2 separate regions of the Homo sapiens genome follow, and region 2 is linked to region 1. A link means that fine-mapping ties the variant in region 1 to the expression of a gene that starts in the linked region. Tissue or cell type: lung. Region 1 holds a variant in brackets; the other region holds the start of a gene. All regions are shown on one strand. Distances are between the middles of the regions.

Evidence for each region. PIP is the estimated chance that this variant, and not a neighbour inherited with it, causes the effect.
Region 2: SLC35F2 starts here. The variant in region 1 is fine-mapped to the expression of SLC35F2 in lung (TOPMed, PIP above 0.99).

Annotation. Positions count from the first base shown.
Region 1 is chr11:107,776,941-107,785,045 of GRCh38, forward strand. No RefSeq gene overlaps it. Among named protein-coding and RNA genes, the nearest start is that of SLN, 69 kb to the left of the region's middle. The variant A/C (reference allele first, on the strand shown) is at 3,250.
Region 2 is chr11:107,854,205-107,862,309 of GRCh38, forward strand. It overlaps SLC35F2 (solute carrier family 35 member F2), which reads right to left and starts at 4,583. Exons shown (of 8, transcript NM_017515.5): 1 at 4,454-4,583. The coding sequence starts at 4,563. LOC124902746 (a long non-coding RNA gene) reads left to right here and starts at 5,026. Exons shown (of 2, transcript XR_007062876.1): 1 at 5,026-5,450; 2 at 5,542-6,785. RefSeq lists an enhancer at 4,109-4,178 and a silencer at 4,399-4,708.

The DNA of each region.
Region 1 (8,105 bases):
ACTCCTGGGCACAAGCAGTCCTCCCACCTTGGCCTCCCAAAGTGCTGGGATTACAGGTATGAGCCACCATGCCCAGCCAGCCAAAAATTAAATCTTGTTTTAAGCCAATAAGATATTTGGTGTTGTTTGTTATAGTAGCATAACCTAATTCTATCCTGCCTGGTACAAGCCTTCATTTCCTCATTGGTTAAATGGAGATATAAATAGTATATGCCTCCTTAAGATGTGAAGTTTATATAAGACAATGTATGTTTTTAAAAAACAGTCCATTGCCAGGCACATACTATTGTTAGATCAATGAGAGTTATGAAAGGGAAGTGAAAAAGCATCACCCTAGATCATCCAGCTTTTTAATGATAGAACCTGTTTCTTCAATCCTAAGCAGTCGTCTGCAGAGTCTGTAAGAGTGTGAATCATCTACTCAGATATGCAGATTCTGGCTCCCAAATATAGTCATTTTCACAAACATTCATGTTAACACCGGAATAATCATATGTTCCTCTCACTCCCCTTCTATTTACTTTGTCATTTGTCAATAGCATGTGTTCCAACCATAGAAAATATAACCTATTGAATTAAGCTTTCCTTTTTCTAAATAGGAGTAGCACTTCCTCATCAAGCATCTTCTAAAATTCTTTGTTCTGTCCCATTTACGTTATGCCAAGAAAGACTTCCTGGAAAAGATTAATATGCAATTTAGAGATATCATATTTGGGCAATGTCTTGAATATTAAATCACTTTTTGCTTTGTTACATGGTAGGATTATTACTACTTACCCAAACAAAAAGTAGTGATTCACAAGTTTAGGATCTGATAGAACATAGGAAAAAGCATAGTTAATCAACAAATACAAATGCAATATTACTGAGTTCCTGTTATTTTTAAGGCTTTATGTTTGGTTCTATGTTGAATATGTAAAAAGTGTTTGTTTCTGACCTTTCCCATTCCATTGAGATTTTGATACACTGCAAAGCAGAATAAGGCATGTCTTGGTCCATTCACACTGCCATAACAAAAATACTATAGATTAGCTGGCTCATGAACAACAGAAATTTATTTCTCACAGTCCTGGAGGCTGGGAAGTCCAAGATCAAGCTGCCAACAGAATCCATGTCTGGTGAAGTCACTCTTCCTGGCTTGTAGATACACTGTGTCCTCTCATGGTGTAAGAAGGAATGAACTTTCTGGGTGTTCTGTTATAGCAGCATAAATGGAAAAAGACAGCATGGAAACCCCAGCTACTAGCACTACAAGTTCTCTACATCACACATTGTGTACAGACTGTGGCCTCCCCAATGGGCAGGCAGTGAATGTAATAGCTGATTGAGTGAGGCATATATGGAACCATCTGAATGCTTGTTTATGGTCAGTTGGAGCTAATAATTGTTCAAATGGCCTCTTAAAATTGGTACGAATTCTTTCATTTCCTTCTCCAAAAGTGTTCACATTTTAAATTAAGATTGCTGGAAGAGGCCGGGTGCAGTGGCTCACACCGGTAATCCCAGCACTTTGGGAGGTCAAGGAGGCAGATCACCTGAGGTTGGGAGTTCGAGATCCAGCCTGACCAACATGGAGAAACCTCATCTCTACTAAAAACACAAAATTAGCTGGGCATGGTGATGCATGCCTGTAATCCCAGCTACTCAGGAGGCTGAGGCAGGAGAATTGCTTGAACCCGGGAGGCGGAGGTTGCGATGAGACGAGACTGCACCATTGCACTCCAGCCTGGGCAACAAGAGCAAAACTCCGTCTCAAAAGAAAAGAAAAGAAAAGAAAAGATTGCTAGAAGAGGAAAGTATTTAAACCGAGGATTAAGGTACATTGTAAAAGTTTGAGCATTGGGAGAAGAAAGCTTGGAACATTAAATCCTACAGGTTTGTGCATGAAGGATGGGTAAAATTTTGTCGTTCTGAAGAGGCTTTGCTTCCTCTAATGCACCATTTATATATTGCCAGACTTCTCAAAACACCCTTTAAAGGACTACTAGAGAACTGCATGGTCAGCATTATCTAATTTCCTCATAAATCTCTTGCCTTTTAATCAGCTAAGTGGCTATCTGCTAAATTTCCCTGATTTATTGATGTATTTTGAAGGCTGAGGATATGTCCAGATACTAAGTGATTAAATGTAGATGAAATGGCACATCACCATAATTATGACAGAAAAGAGAATCGTGACTAGGCATACGTAAGACCTCACAGAGACAAACTGTAGACAGCTTCTTAAAAGGGCAGCCCCCAGCGTTGCAGATAAAACTGTATTACCAAGCTAGTTTTTCCAAGAAAATCATCCCAACAGCTCTCATTAGAGATGCATTTGTATTTGCTGTCTCAGCAGTGCCACAGCAACCATGACCCCTTCAGAATTTACAGAGCGGAGACTTTGGCTGCTGACTAAACTGAAAGGTTAAAATCCTGGTTTCTGTTTTTACCTTAGCCACCAAACTCTGTGTGACCTGAGACAGATATTTCAACTTTTCTGAGACCCCAATTCTTTGTTTGTTTTTGGTTTTTGGTTTTTTTTGAGACAGAGTCTCACTCTGTCGCCGAGGCTGGAGTGCAGTGGCACTGTGTTGGCTCACTGCAACCTCTGTCTCCTGGGTTCAAGCAATTCTCCTGCCTCAGCCTCCCAAGCAGCTGGGATTACAGGCACGAGCCACCACGCCCAGCTAATTTTTGTATTTTTAGTAGAGACCTGGTTTCACCATGTTGGCCAGGCTGGTCTCGAACTCCTGACTTCAGGTGATCCACCTGCCTCAGTCTCCGAAAATGCTGGGATTACAGGTGTGAGCCACCGCGCCTGGCCGGGACCCCAGTTCTTCAACCGTTTTTTTCTAACCGACATAGTCAATGTTTATTTTTTTTCCCAGTAGATGTCCAGTTGCTCCAGAACCACTTGTTGAAAAGACTATCTTTCCTCCATTGAACTGCTTTTGCACTTTTGTCAAAAATTAATTTCAGCATATTTGTGTGAGTTTTTTCCTAGGTCCAATTGATCTATGTGTCTGTTCCTCTGCCAGTGTACCCAGACAGAACGAGGGGTCCAGCTGCTTGTTCTCATAGTTCAATAATGAGATGCAGACAGACTGAGAAAGAAGGGAGTTTATTTCTGCAACCGGTTTCAGGCAGGTCAGAGTAACTCACCCGACCAACTCAAATTTACAAGGTTTTTTTTTTTCAGTGCTTATACATATTCTAAGTTATTTGCCCATGTGTGGTAGTGCACCTAAAAGTGGCAGTGTTTCATTC[A/C]ATCTATATCTAATCTTTATCTAGGGTCTAGGGTCTGGAAAGCTTTCTCTAGAGTCTTGGAAAGTTTCTTCATCTTGAATGAGCTCTGGCACGAGGTGTATGTGTAAGAATGCCTTTATTATTTGATCAGACTTTAGGGCCGGAGAAAACCCAGGCCAGGTCTTAATGGGTTTGTTTTTGCATTCCAGCGCTCACCCTCAGGCACCAATTTCTTCAGTTTTTTTATGTTTAACTTACACATTCATCAGAAAAGGGTTAGTGAACCTGACTGTTCTGGTTGATAATGGAAACCTGGCCTGACATACCAGTGCCACAGAGGCTTAAAAAAAAAAGGGAAAAAACAAGAAAAAATAATATATATAATATATATTTTATATATATTATATATATTTATGACATATATATGTGTGTATAAGTGCAGGTTTCTTACACGTGTATATTGGGTAGTGGTGAAATCTGGGCTTTTAGTGTACCCATCACCCAAATAATGAACACTGTACACAACAGGTAATTTTTCAACCCTCACCTCCCTCCCACCCTGCCACTTTTTGGAGTCTCCAGTATCTATTATTACACTCTGTATGTCCACGTGTACCCATTGTTTAGCTTCCAACAATTATTCATCTGTTAACCAAAGGTAGCCCCTGATGAGGACAATCTTTATAATACCCTTTTTAAAACAAAACACTTTGATTTACAGGACGTTATGGAAGCACTATAAAATGTCAACACTATTGTTTATGCAAACGGTCTTTAGGTTGTTACAATTGTTAAAGTGCCACCTGCTGGAAAGTCCACCCATAAATATATACCAATTCCTTAAGAGGCTGAAGACAACTTTGTTTCAAAACACAAATAGTGAAAGTGACACCAGCAAAATCCTCTCTTCTTACAGTGTTGCCCCAGTCCAGTTGCACAGTATACTTCATCTACACAACACTATGGAAAATGTAGCAACTCTGTTATACTATTCATCAGTAGAGTTTGGGCTTTTTTTAAATACTTTTTTTTTCTAATTTAATGGGGGGTAGGGGACGGCTATGTTGCAACTATGTTGCCCAGGCTGGTCTCCAACTGTTGGGCTCAAACAGTCCTCCCATCTCAGCCTCCCAAAGTGCTGGGATTACAGGTGCCAGCCACCAGCAGTGCTGTTTGTTTGTTTGTTTGCTTGTTGTTTCTTTTTCTTTTTTGAGACGGAATTTTGCTCTTCTTGCCCAGGCTGGAGTGCAATGGTACAATCTCGGCTCACTGCAACCTCCGCCTCCCAGGTTCAAGCGATTCTCCTGCCTCAGCCTCCCAGGTAGCTGGGATTACAGGCATGCGCCACCATGCCCGGCTAATTTTGTATTTTTAGTAGAGCAGGGTTTCTCCATGTTGGTCAGGCTGGTCTCGAACTCCTGACCACAGGTGATCCGCCCACCTCGGCCTCCCAAAGTGCTGGGATTACAGATGTGAGGCACTGTGCCCGGCTGGGTTTTGTTTTTTTTTTTTAAATGGCATTAATGTCTACAAAAAAATTTTAAAATCAATAAATATTGTTCCAATAGGCTCTTAAAAAGCATTTAGAGGAGGTTTTCTTTTTTCTTTCTTTTTTTTGAGATGGAGTCTCATTCTGTTGCCCAGGCTGGAGTGCAGTGGCGTGATCACGGCTCACTGCAAGCTCCGCCTCCCAGGTTCACGCCATTCTCCTGCCTCAGCCTCCCAAGTAGCTGAGACTACAGGCGCCCGCCACCACACCCGGCTAATTTTTTTTTTTTTTTTTTTTTTTTTTTGTATTTTTAGTAGAAACGGGGTTTCACCGTATTAGCCAGGCTGGTCACGAACTCCTGACCTTGTGATCTACCTGCCTCTGCCTCCCAAAGTGCTGGGATTACAGTTGTGAGCCACCGCGCCCGGCCTTAGAGGAGGTTTTCAACTAAAGAAGGTGTGTTTCAAAAGCTTGTGCTTGATCCTGATTTTTAGCCTCAGGGATCAGCACGCATTTAGATAAATAATTTCTTATCTTCATGAATGGAATTTTCTAGTAAAATACTCACTTAAAGATTCTTTATGAAAATGGTTGTTATCAAATGTATTTCTGATTTTAAATGTTGTGATAACTTAGATTCAATCTCTGTAATAAGACAATTTATATCAACAATCCCTAGGAGAGTCTTGTGAGCAGCCGTGATTCTGTATAGGTCTGCAGCAACTCGATTCTTGCCTCCTCAGAGGAAATAATTAGTCTAAGAGTCAAGGCAGAGTGAGAGACCAAGGCACGTTTTAGAGCAGGAATGGAAGTTTATTAAAAAGCTTTAGAGCAGGGGCCAGGCGTGGTGGCTCACACCTGTAATCCCAGCACTTTGGGAGGCCGAGGCAGGCGGATCATTTGAGGCCAGACTAGCCAGACTAGCCTGGCCAACATGGTGAGACCCCCCAACACTACTAAAAAACACAAAAATTAGCTGGGCGTTGTGGTGTGTGTCTTTAATCCCAGCTACTCCGAAGGCTGAGGCAGGAGAATTGCTTAAACCCGGAAGGCAGAGGCTGCAATGAGCCAACATCATGCCATTTCACTCCAGCCTGGACGACAGAGTGAGGTTCTGTCTCAAATTTTTTTTGAAAAAAAAAGAAAAGCTTTAGAGCAGTAAAAAAAAGTAAAGTACACTTGGAAGAGGACCAAGCAGGTGACTTCAGAGATCCAAATGGAGTTTTGAGTCTCTCCTCCCTTGATTATTCCTTGGGGTGGACTGTCCGCGTGCGCAGTGCCTGCCAGCACTTGGGAGGGGTCGCATGCGCAGTGTGTTTACTGAAGTTGTGCACATGCTCATTTGAGGCATTTTTGCCCTTACCAGTCCAGGCTTCCTGGAGGGATGTCATATACCAGTTAAACTCCGCCATTTTGCATCTTAGTGTGCATGGGTGAGCACACTCACTCAGCTCCTAAGATCTTATTGGGAAGCTGCTGATAACCAGCTTCAGGTGTTTTGTATCTATTGGGAGACCGCCTTTCCCTGGTGCTAGCTGTGACCAGTTATTATTTTAGACGGAGAGTTTAAAAAGCGCCTGACCATCACCAGATGGTTGCCTAAGGTTCCTTAGGGAGAGCCCTCTCCTGTGGTGTTCATGTTTGCCTGCCCACCTACTCTAACAGTCTAATTTGAAGAAGTTAAGAGTTCATTGTTCAACAGGGTAGTCACCAGCCACATGCGGCTATTGGATACATGAAATGTGGCTAGTGACACACTGAAATAATATTTTAAATATATTGATTAAAATATATTATTTTTAAAAAATTTTTAAGATCTCATGTAAGCCAGATGTTTGAAAATAAATTTTTCAAGGAAGCAGTGTTATACAGGCTGGTTAAATTCCCAGTTCTCACAAATTTCTTTAAACCAGGATGCATAGCCTTGCACAGTATTATGATATAATAGCTGTCATTCATACCATTGCTTCTCTGGGACATTGTTTTTTAACTTGGGATGCCCTGATTGGAATTCCTCTGCCCCTCTCCAGATGAGGAGCAGGCAAAGGGAAAGACTAGGACTAAAAGGCCCAGCAAGAAAGAGAACAGAGCAGGGTAGGACAACTTGCTAACCACATGTGTCTGCATAGAAGGCTTTACTTTAGGTCAGTGTCCCCTTCAGTGTTCTCTACTGAGACAAAAGGTAAAGTTTATTTAACCCAAGAGGTGAGCTGACCAATGGGCTAGAAAGATGAAGAAAGGGGCCGGGCACGGTGGCTCACGCCTATAATCCCAGCACTTAAGGAGGCCAAGGGGGGCGGATCAACTGAGGTCAGGAGTTCAAGACCACCCTGGCCAACATGATGAAACCCCGTCTCTACTAAAAAATATAAAAATTAGCCAGGTGTGGTGGTGGGTACCTGTAATCCCAGCTACCCAGGAGGCTGAGGCAGGAGAATTGCTTGAACCTGGGAGGCGGAGGTTGCAGCGAGCCGAGATCATGCCACTGCACTCCAGCCTGGTGCAGAGCGAGACTCCTGTCTCAAAAAAAAAAGGAAAAAAGGCCACTGTTGACCTACAAGAGCTCCAACTGGGGTGAGGAAGGGCAGGTGGATAAACCACAAGCACTGTGGTAAGTGCTAAAAGGAAGATATGAGCAAAGACTATGGAAGCTTAAAGGCGGGTGGGACCCAGGCTGAGAAAGGGTTCCTAAGAGACTACATTTGAGATCAACCTTGATGGACAGATGAGATTTTTGTCACCTGAGATTCTCTACTTCACCATTACACCATTATCCCTATAGAGATAGAGTTTTATTTTTAAATTTTATTTTATTTTATTTTTGACACAGGGTCTTGCTGTCACCTAGGCTGGAGTGCAGTGGTGGCAATCATAGCTCACTGCAACCTCAAATGTCTGGGCTCAAGTGAGCCTCCTATCTCAACCTCCTGAGTGAGCTGGGACTACAGATGCATGCCACCATGCCTGACTAATTTTTTTTTCTTCTTTTTTGTACAGACAAGGTATCACTGTGTTGGCTGACCTTGAACTTCTGGCCTCCTGGCCTCAAGTGATCCTCCCGCCTTGGCCTCCCAAAGGGCTGGGTTTAAAGGTGTGAGCCACCACACCAAGCCCAGGTTTATTATTAAGCAAAATATTTTAGGAAATGTGTGCTCAGAGATCCCTGGCCTCCACCCCTGGAGACTGACTCAGTAGTTCTGGGATAGGGCTTGATAATCTCTATTTTTAAAAGCATCTCCAGTGTTTCTGACATTCTGCTAAGTGAGAATTAGTAATGAACTAGGAATCCAGTAATGAACTAAGAATCCATTTTCGTTTGGCATAAAACTCAGACAAATCACATCGCTTTCCTGTGCCTTCCCTTATTTATCTTTAAAAAGGGAATTGG
Region 2 (8,105 bases), 77 kb after region 1:
GTGGATCACTTGAGCCAAAGAGTTTGAGACCAGCCTGGGCAACATGGTGAAACCCTGTCTCTACGGAAAAAAAAAAAAAACTAGTAGTGCGTGGCAGTGCATGCCATAGTCCCAGCCACTCAGGAGGCTGAGGTGGGAGGATCACTTGAGCCACGGAGGTCGAGGCTGCAGTAAGCCATGATCAGCCACTGCACTCCAGCCTGGCCAACAGAGTGAGAGCCTGTCTCAAAAAATGATGATAATAATAATAATAAACAATTAAATAAGAAGTATTCTCAGATACTCCTGGAAGTCTATGGTCTTCTATCACAATATTTTTCACTTGAGTTGACAGTAATAAATCACAAAAGCCAAAATTACACACTCCACTAAGGAATATATGGTTCTCATTATCATGAATGTCTGGCACATGGTAAGTGTTCAATAAACTTTTATTGAATGAGTGATCTGATATTCCTAATCATAGAGAAAAGTTGTCTGTACCCTATGGGGGCAGGTATATTAAGAGCTGGGGTCACTTAGAACATATCCTCCTCATAATGAAAACATAACAAGCTCTATGCCCCAATCTTCTCCCTGTATTTAGTACCCAGTTGCCCAAAAAGCCTCTTCTTGCCCCTTTTTGGTAAAAGGAATAGAAATGAGCTATGTGGTTATAAATCTCTCTCTGTATCTTGCCCATATGGTGATAACACATCATATCCATTCACCAACCTCTTTCTACACTCTCCCACCCTTGGTTCCCTGGCCACAGGTGGGGATTCACAAAGCTACTCAAACTTGGGACATGAGTTTTGACAACAAAGCTTAAAATATTGAGTATTAGGAGTACTGGATATCTGGTAAACCACTCTTTTCTGATTGCTGGGTCTGATAAAGAGAAACTGCAATCCAAAATCCAAGTGCTTGGATGGCTGCCAGAGGTAGGAATGGAAACTTTAATTAACAAAAGAGCCCAGCCAACCAAACAAGAAGCTCAGCCCAAGACCCTTGGAATAAAGACCAATAAAGGGAAGAGTTCAGGGAGGGAGGCAGAATGGAAAGGAAGACTTGTGAACCTTTGTCATCCCTCAGTCATTCACTCATTCATTCATTCATGTGCTAAGGGTTGTGGTAGATATAAAAAAGAAAAAGACACCATTTTTGCTGTTAAAGAACTTCGTCCATGGCCAGGCGTGTGGCTCACACCTGTAATCCCAGCACTTTGGGAGGCCGAGGCGGGCGGATCACCTGAGGTTGGGAGTTCGAGAACAGCCTGACCAACATGGAGAAGCCCCATCTCTACAAAAAATACAAAATTAGCCAGGTGTGGTGGTGCATGCCTGTAATCCCAGCTACTTGGCAGGCTGAGGTAGAAGAAGAGCTTGAACCCGGGAGGCGGAGGTTGCGGTGAGCCGAGATCGCGCCATTGAACTCCAGCCTGGGCAACAACAGTGAAACTCTGTCTAAAAAAAAAAAATGCCCATAACTGCTATTCCACAAGAAAGGAAAAAGCCCTCAAAGAGATACATAAAAAGGACATTCATAGACAAAAGAAATCTCATATTTAGGAGGCTACTAGACTGATTATAAAACATACCCGGATTCCAAAAGTATCAGAACATTAGGAGAGAAAAAAAAAAATCAGGCCAGGCACGGTGGCTTACGCTTATAATCCCAGCACTTTTGGAGGCTGAGGTAGATGGATCACCTGAGGTCAGGAGCTCAAGACCAGCCTGGCCAACATGGTGAAATCCTGTCTGTATTAAAAATTAGCCGGGCATGGTGGCAGGCGCCTGTAATCCTAGCTACTCAGGAGGCTGAGGCAGGAGAATCACTTGAACCCGGGAGGCAGAGGTTGCAGTGAGCCATGATCGTGCCGCTGCACTCCAGCCTGGGCAACAAGAGCAAAACTCTGTCTCAAAAAAAAAAAAAAAAAAGAAGAAGAAGAAAAGAAAAGAAAATCATTGTTAATTCTTATCACATCTTGTTAAACATACATCTTGCCATATCATCTGCCCCAGCCTCAAGGCCACTGGCATCTCCTGAAGCAATCACCAAATGTTCCCATCACCCAAGAATAGAGAGCTAATGGTGACAACTAACCCATATAGAGCACTGAAAGGAGCCAGGCTCTGTCTGCCCTTTCCTGCATAGTAACCTTGTAACAGCACTACAAGGTAGGTACTGTTATTATCTCCATTTTACAAATAAGAAAACTGGAGCACAGGCTGGGCGCGGTGGCTCACGCCTGTAATCCCACTACTTTGGGAGGCGGAGGTGGGTGCATCACTTGAGGTCAGGAGTTCAAGACCAGCCTGGTCAACATGGGGAAACCCCATCTCTACTAAAAGCATGAAAAAATTAGCCTGGCGTGGTGGTATACATCTGTAATCCCAGCTACTTCGGAGGCTGAGGCAGGATAATCGCTTGAACCCGAAAGGTTGAGGTTGCAGTTAGCTGAGATAGAGCCTCTGCACTCAGGCCTGGGTGACAGAATGAGACTCTGTCAGGAAGGAAGGTGACAGAATGAGACTCCGTCAGGAGGGAGGGAGGGAGGGAGAGAAAAGAGGGAGGGAGACTGGAGCACAGAGAAGTTAAGTGACTTGTCCAAGAAGGGAGGGAGGGAGGGAGAGAGGGAGACCGGAGCACAGAGAAGTGACTTGTCCAGGAAGGAAGGAAGGAAGGCAGGAAGGAAGGAAGGGAGGGAGGGAAGGAAGGAAGGGAGGGAGGGAGGGAGGGAAAAGAGGGAAGGAGACTGGAGCACAGAGAAGTTAAGTGACTTGTCCAAGAAGGAAGGGAGGGAGGGAGACTGAAGCACAGAGAAGTGACTTGTCCAGGAAGGAAGGAAGGCAGGAAGGAAGGGAGGGGCGGAGGGAGGGAACTGGAGCACAGAGAACTGATTTGTCCAAGGTCACCCAGCAGAAGGAAGGGAGGAAGGAAGGGAGGAAGGAAGGGAGGGAGGGAGACTGGAGCACAGAGAAGTTAAGTGACTTGTCCAAGACGGACGGACACGGACGGAAGGAAGGAACAAAGAAGGAGGGAGGGAGGGAGGGAGGGAACTGGAGTACAGATAACTGACTTGTGGAAGGAAGGACGGAAGGAAGGAGAGAGGGAACGAAGGAAGGAGAGAGGGAAGGAAGGAAGGAAGGAGAGAGAGGGAAGGAAGGAAGGAGAGAGGGAGAGAGGGAGGGAAGGGAGGGAACTGGAGCACAGAGAACTGACTTGTCCAAGGTCACCCAGCCAGGATTTGAGTCCAGAATGTGAGTGCCCTTAGCCATTACACTGAATTGCCTCCCAGCTGAGAACTTTTAACAAATGTATCAGGACATACACAACTGGATGCTACAAGGTGGTTTTCGGCCAACTTTCCCCTTTAAACACATGCATCAATTTCAAACTATTTATATGATAAAAAATGCTTACACCTTTATCGATCTCGTTTTTAAAATGGTATGGCTTTTCAGGACTATCTTTCACAATCGTTAAAGGGAAATTCGCTTTGTTAATATGAAAAAAAAATCAAATATCTGTTTCATGAGTTGTCAGTGGCCAACGCTGTTTAGACTACGGCTTGAACGCATCACCCCTTAAAGATCATCTTGTGGCCTTGGGCAAATTGCTTAGCCTTCTTTGTTTCTCCAGCGGCAAAGTGGATATAACAATAGTACCATCTCCTAAAGTGGTGAGGATTAGCTGATATTATCCATATAAATTGTTATGCACAGTACCTGACACAGAGCGAGTGCCCAATAAATGTCTTTCACTATTTAGGTCCTGGGTTCTCTCATTTCCAGAGTGCAAGTCCTCCAGCAACCACAGAAACGCTTTCTAGAGTCGCTGCCCACTCCTTAAAAACATTTGTCCCTACTTCGCACAGAGCATAGTGATACCACAAACAGGCTTCCCTGGACCCCAGCCCTGGGGGTGGCTATATCACCTCGCTCAGGCCCAGGAAGAGAGAGCCGGCTCTGGTCTCCCACCCGGCAGCAGCACAAAACTTAACCAGGATTTCTCACTTCGGTCAACTCTTGAATCACCGCGCCCAGTCTGGCTGGCTCGGCAGCAGATGGAATGAGGGCGCCGGCGCCAGGAAGTGGCGCTCACCCACCTGCCCAGCCCGAGGTGGGCACTCCTCCTTCACAGCATCCCCGGGGACCTCGTCCCTCCACCGCGGAACGCCCCAGAGGACCGACCTAATAGTGCCACAGGGTGGGTTTCCCCCCAAATCCTCCAAAATACATCGCCACGATTTCGAAACGGGAGCCGAGGGAGACGCACCAAGTGCTTCCCGACGCCAGGTGAAGCGCACCATACCTGGTGTGCGTGTTGAGCCCCGAACCGAAGTCCGTGCGGCCGCCACCTCTGCCTCCCTGCTGGGGGCCTCAGAGAGTGTGCTCCTTGTCCACGTGCGCGCAGGGCCCGCAGCCGCCCCCACGCCCCAGCGGAGCTGCAGCACGCCCCTTCCACTCACCAGGTGAAGAGTTTGCCTTTTATCCTGCGCAGCAGGCTGGAGAACTCGGCCGCCGCTCCCTCCGCGAGGGGCTCTGGGGCGCCGGGGCCCGCTGGCGAGTCTGCCTCCATCGGCGCCCTTGCGCGTCTCCGGCGCCCAAAACCCCCGAAGTGCCGGGTCCCGGAAGACGGGAGGCGGTGCCTGTGCGGCCGGCTGGGGCTCCGCTCTGGCCCTGCGCTCCCTCCCTCGCTCGCTTGCTCGCGTCCCTCTCGCTCCTCCGCTCGGCTCCTTCAGCGACCAATCATTAACTGTCAAGCCCTAAGGGCCAGACAATACATTTGCAGATTACAACCTGGCACCTCCAGGGTGGCAGGAGGAGAAAGGGCAATTTTTTTTTCGTCTTGGCAGCCGAGCCTTATTGTTGAGCGGCACCCAGTGTGCCTTCAGGTTTTTAGGGTTCCTTGTTTGAAATCACAAGATACAGTGACACGAGGTTATTGTAGGTGATTCCTAAGCTAAGAAGCGGTGAGTGAGCAGTGAGTTAGAAGCAGTGAGTGAGCCGGGACTCTCCTAACTGGAAGGACTGGCTGACCCCTCCTCTTCCCTCCCACTCTCCCTCCCTCTGGCTGATTTGTACAAAATCGCTTCATTAAAATAACTGAAGGCTGGCAGGGCGCGTTGGCTCACACCTGTAATCCCAACGCTTTGGGAGGCCGAGACGGGTGGATCACCTGAGGTCAGGAGTTCGAGACCAGACTGGGAAATATGGTGAAACCCCGTCTCTACTAAAAATACAAAAATTAGCCGGGCGTGGTGACGGGTGCCTGTAGTCCCAGCTACTCGAGAGGCTGAGGCAGGAGAATCGCTTGAACCCAGGAGGCGGCGGTTGTGAGCCAAGATCGCGCCTTTGCACTCCAGCCTGGGCAACAGAGGGAGACGTCGTCTTAAAAAAAAAAAAAAAAAAAAAAAAAACCTGAAGGCGCTTCAGGTCTGTGTCGCTTTTCCCTGCAAAACATGGGTAAGATCCTAAAAAGATCTTGGAAACGTGCCTTTGTGGCGTGGATGGAGGCGTGGCTCATTCCTCGCGGTGTGTTGGTTTTGTCTTTCAGTATTCAGTTGTCTCCGCCGTGCCAGGGAGAGAGACGGTGCCAACCCCCGGCGCTCGGCTTGGATGCCCTGCCCTGGCCACGCCTTCCGAGGCTTCCACGGGCTAAAGAGGGATTAAGAGACACTAAGCTGGGGTCGAAAAGTTCCTGTCACTGACCCCCTGCTTCCGGAAAGGAGGAGATCCAGAAAACAAAAGAAAAGGTGTTGGGACCTTTTATTTTTTCCTGGCCACCTGCTTTGGGGGTTGGGGTGGGTCAAAATAAACGTAGGTTCAAATAGACAGGCTGTGCAGACGAGCTGGCAATTCTGTAAGAGGAGTCTAAGAAAAAAAACAGCTTTCGAAAATGAAATATTACTTCAGGAACCCCAAGTTTAGCAGCTGCAGGAACCTCAAAAAAACCTTTGAAACTAAGAACGTGGTCATCCGTAGAGACTAATTAAGTATTATAATACAAGCATATTATGAAACAAGAGGACATTAGAAGCACATTTAAGATGTCACTTTTGTAAAGTAAACAACTCATTTAACCCTGCATATTGACAACGTTGAATTCTACCTGAGCCCTGTGCTCCTGGAAAGTAATGACAATTAAGAAACCTTCCTAGGCCGGGCGCGGTGGCTGACGCCTGTAATCCCAGTGCTTTGGGAGACCGAAGCGGGCGGATTACTCCTGAGGTCAGGAGTTCGAGACCAGCCTGACCAACATGGCGAAATCCCGTCTCTACTAAAACTACAAAAATTAGCCCGGCGTTTTGGTGTGTGCCTGTAATCCCAGCTACTTGGGAGGCTAAGGCAGGAGAACCACTTGAACCCGGGAGGCAGAGGTTGCAGTGAGCCAAAATCGTGCCACTGCACTTCAGCCTGGGCAACAGAGTAAGACTGTCTCAAAAAAAAAAGAAAGAAAGAGAGAAAGAGAGAAAGAAAGAAAGAGAAAAGAAAAGAAGCCTCCCACCTTTTTTTTTTTAATCAAAGATTTTGGTTGAATTTCTCTTCCTCCCTCATACCTCTGAACTTTCACCCACCCTGACCCTGAGCCGCAGGTAACCCCTCCTTAATAGCCCCTCCTGAGAAGTTGGCCTCAGGGTGAAACATTCTCTAATCTATTATCCAGTGGAGAGCCACCTTTTCATTCCACTTCCCACCAGTAGGGAATAGGCCCCCTCCTACTGCAGGAACCCTTCCCCACAGTCCCCACCCATCCCCATTTGCAATAATCCCTACAAATAAAGTCTCTCCTTAACCAAATTTGATTTTTTATTTGCAATATATACAGTAGTCACCTCCTTACCTGAGGTTTTGATTTCCACGGTTTTAGTTACCACAGCCAATTACCCTCTGAAAATAGGTGACTAGAGTATAGTAAGATATTTTGAGAGAGAGACCACATTCACATAACTTTTATTACAGTATATTGTTATAATTGTTCTATTTTATTATGAGTTGTTAATTTCTTACTGTGCCAATTTTATAAATTAAATTTTATTATAGGTATGTGTAGGAAAAAAGTATATACTGTATAGGGCTAAATACTCTCTGCAGTTTCAGACACCCACCGGGGGTCTTGAAACATAAGGGAGGACTACTATGTTTGATTATGTGAGTATGAAGAAAAATAGAAGATACACGTCAACACCAGTAACTTTAAAAGAGGGTGGGGGGCCAGGCACAGTAGCTCACACCTGTAATCCCAACACTTCAGGAGGCTGAGGCAGGAGGATTGTTTGAGCTCAGGAGTTTCAGACCAGCCTGGGGCTACATAGTGAGACAGTCTTTTAAAACACACACACAGACACACACACACACCCCCCAAAAAAAAACTCCGGCACGTATAATAGAGTCCCCCCGCTTTTATTTTTTTTTTCAGACGGAGTCTCTCTTTGTCAGGCTGGAATACAGTGGTGCGATCTCAGCTCACTGCAACCTCCAACTCCCTGGTTCAAGCAATTCTCCTGCCTCAGCCCCCCAAGTAGATGGGACTACAGGCATGTGCCCATGCCCGGCTAATTCTTGTATTTTTAGTAGAGACAGGAGTTCACCATGTTGGCCAGGTTGGTCTCGATCTCCTGACCTCGTGATTCACCTGCCTCGGCCTCCCAAAGTGCCAGGATTACAGGTGTGAGCCACCACGCCCGCCAATAGAGTCCCTGTTATGTCAAATGTATGCCTTTGTATAAATACATGAAATTAAAAGATGAATTTAGACATTGTAGCAAGCTGAATAATGTCCCCCAAAATATCCAGGTCCTAATCCCTAGAACCTGTGAATGTTGCCTTGAGTGGCAAAATGGACTTTGCAGATGTGATTAAGTTACACACCGTGAGATGGAGAGATTATCCTGTGGGCCATAATGTAATCACAGTGTCATAGGAGGGAAACAGAGGCCAGGCATGGAGGCTCACACCTGTAATCCCAGCACTTTGGAAGGCTGAAGCGGGTGGATCACGAGGTCAGGAGTTCGAGACCAGTTTTGCCACCATGGCGAAACCCCCATCTCTACTAAAAATACAAAAATTATCCAGGCATGGTGGTGCACGCCTGTAATCCCAGCTACTCAGGAGGCTGAG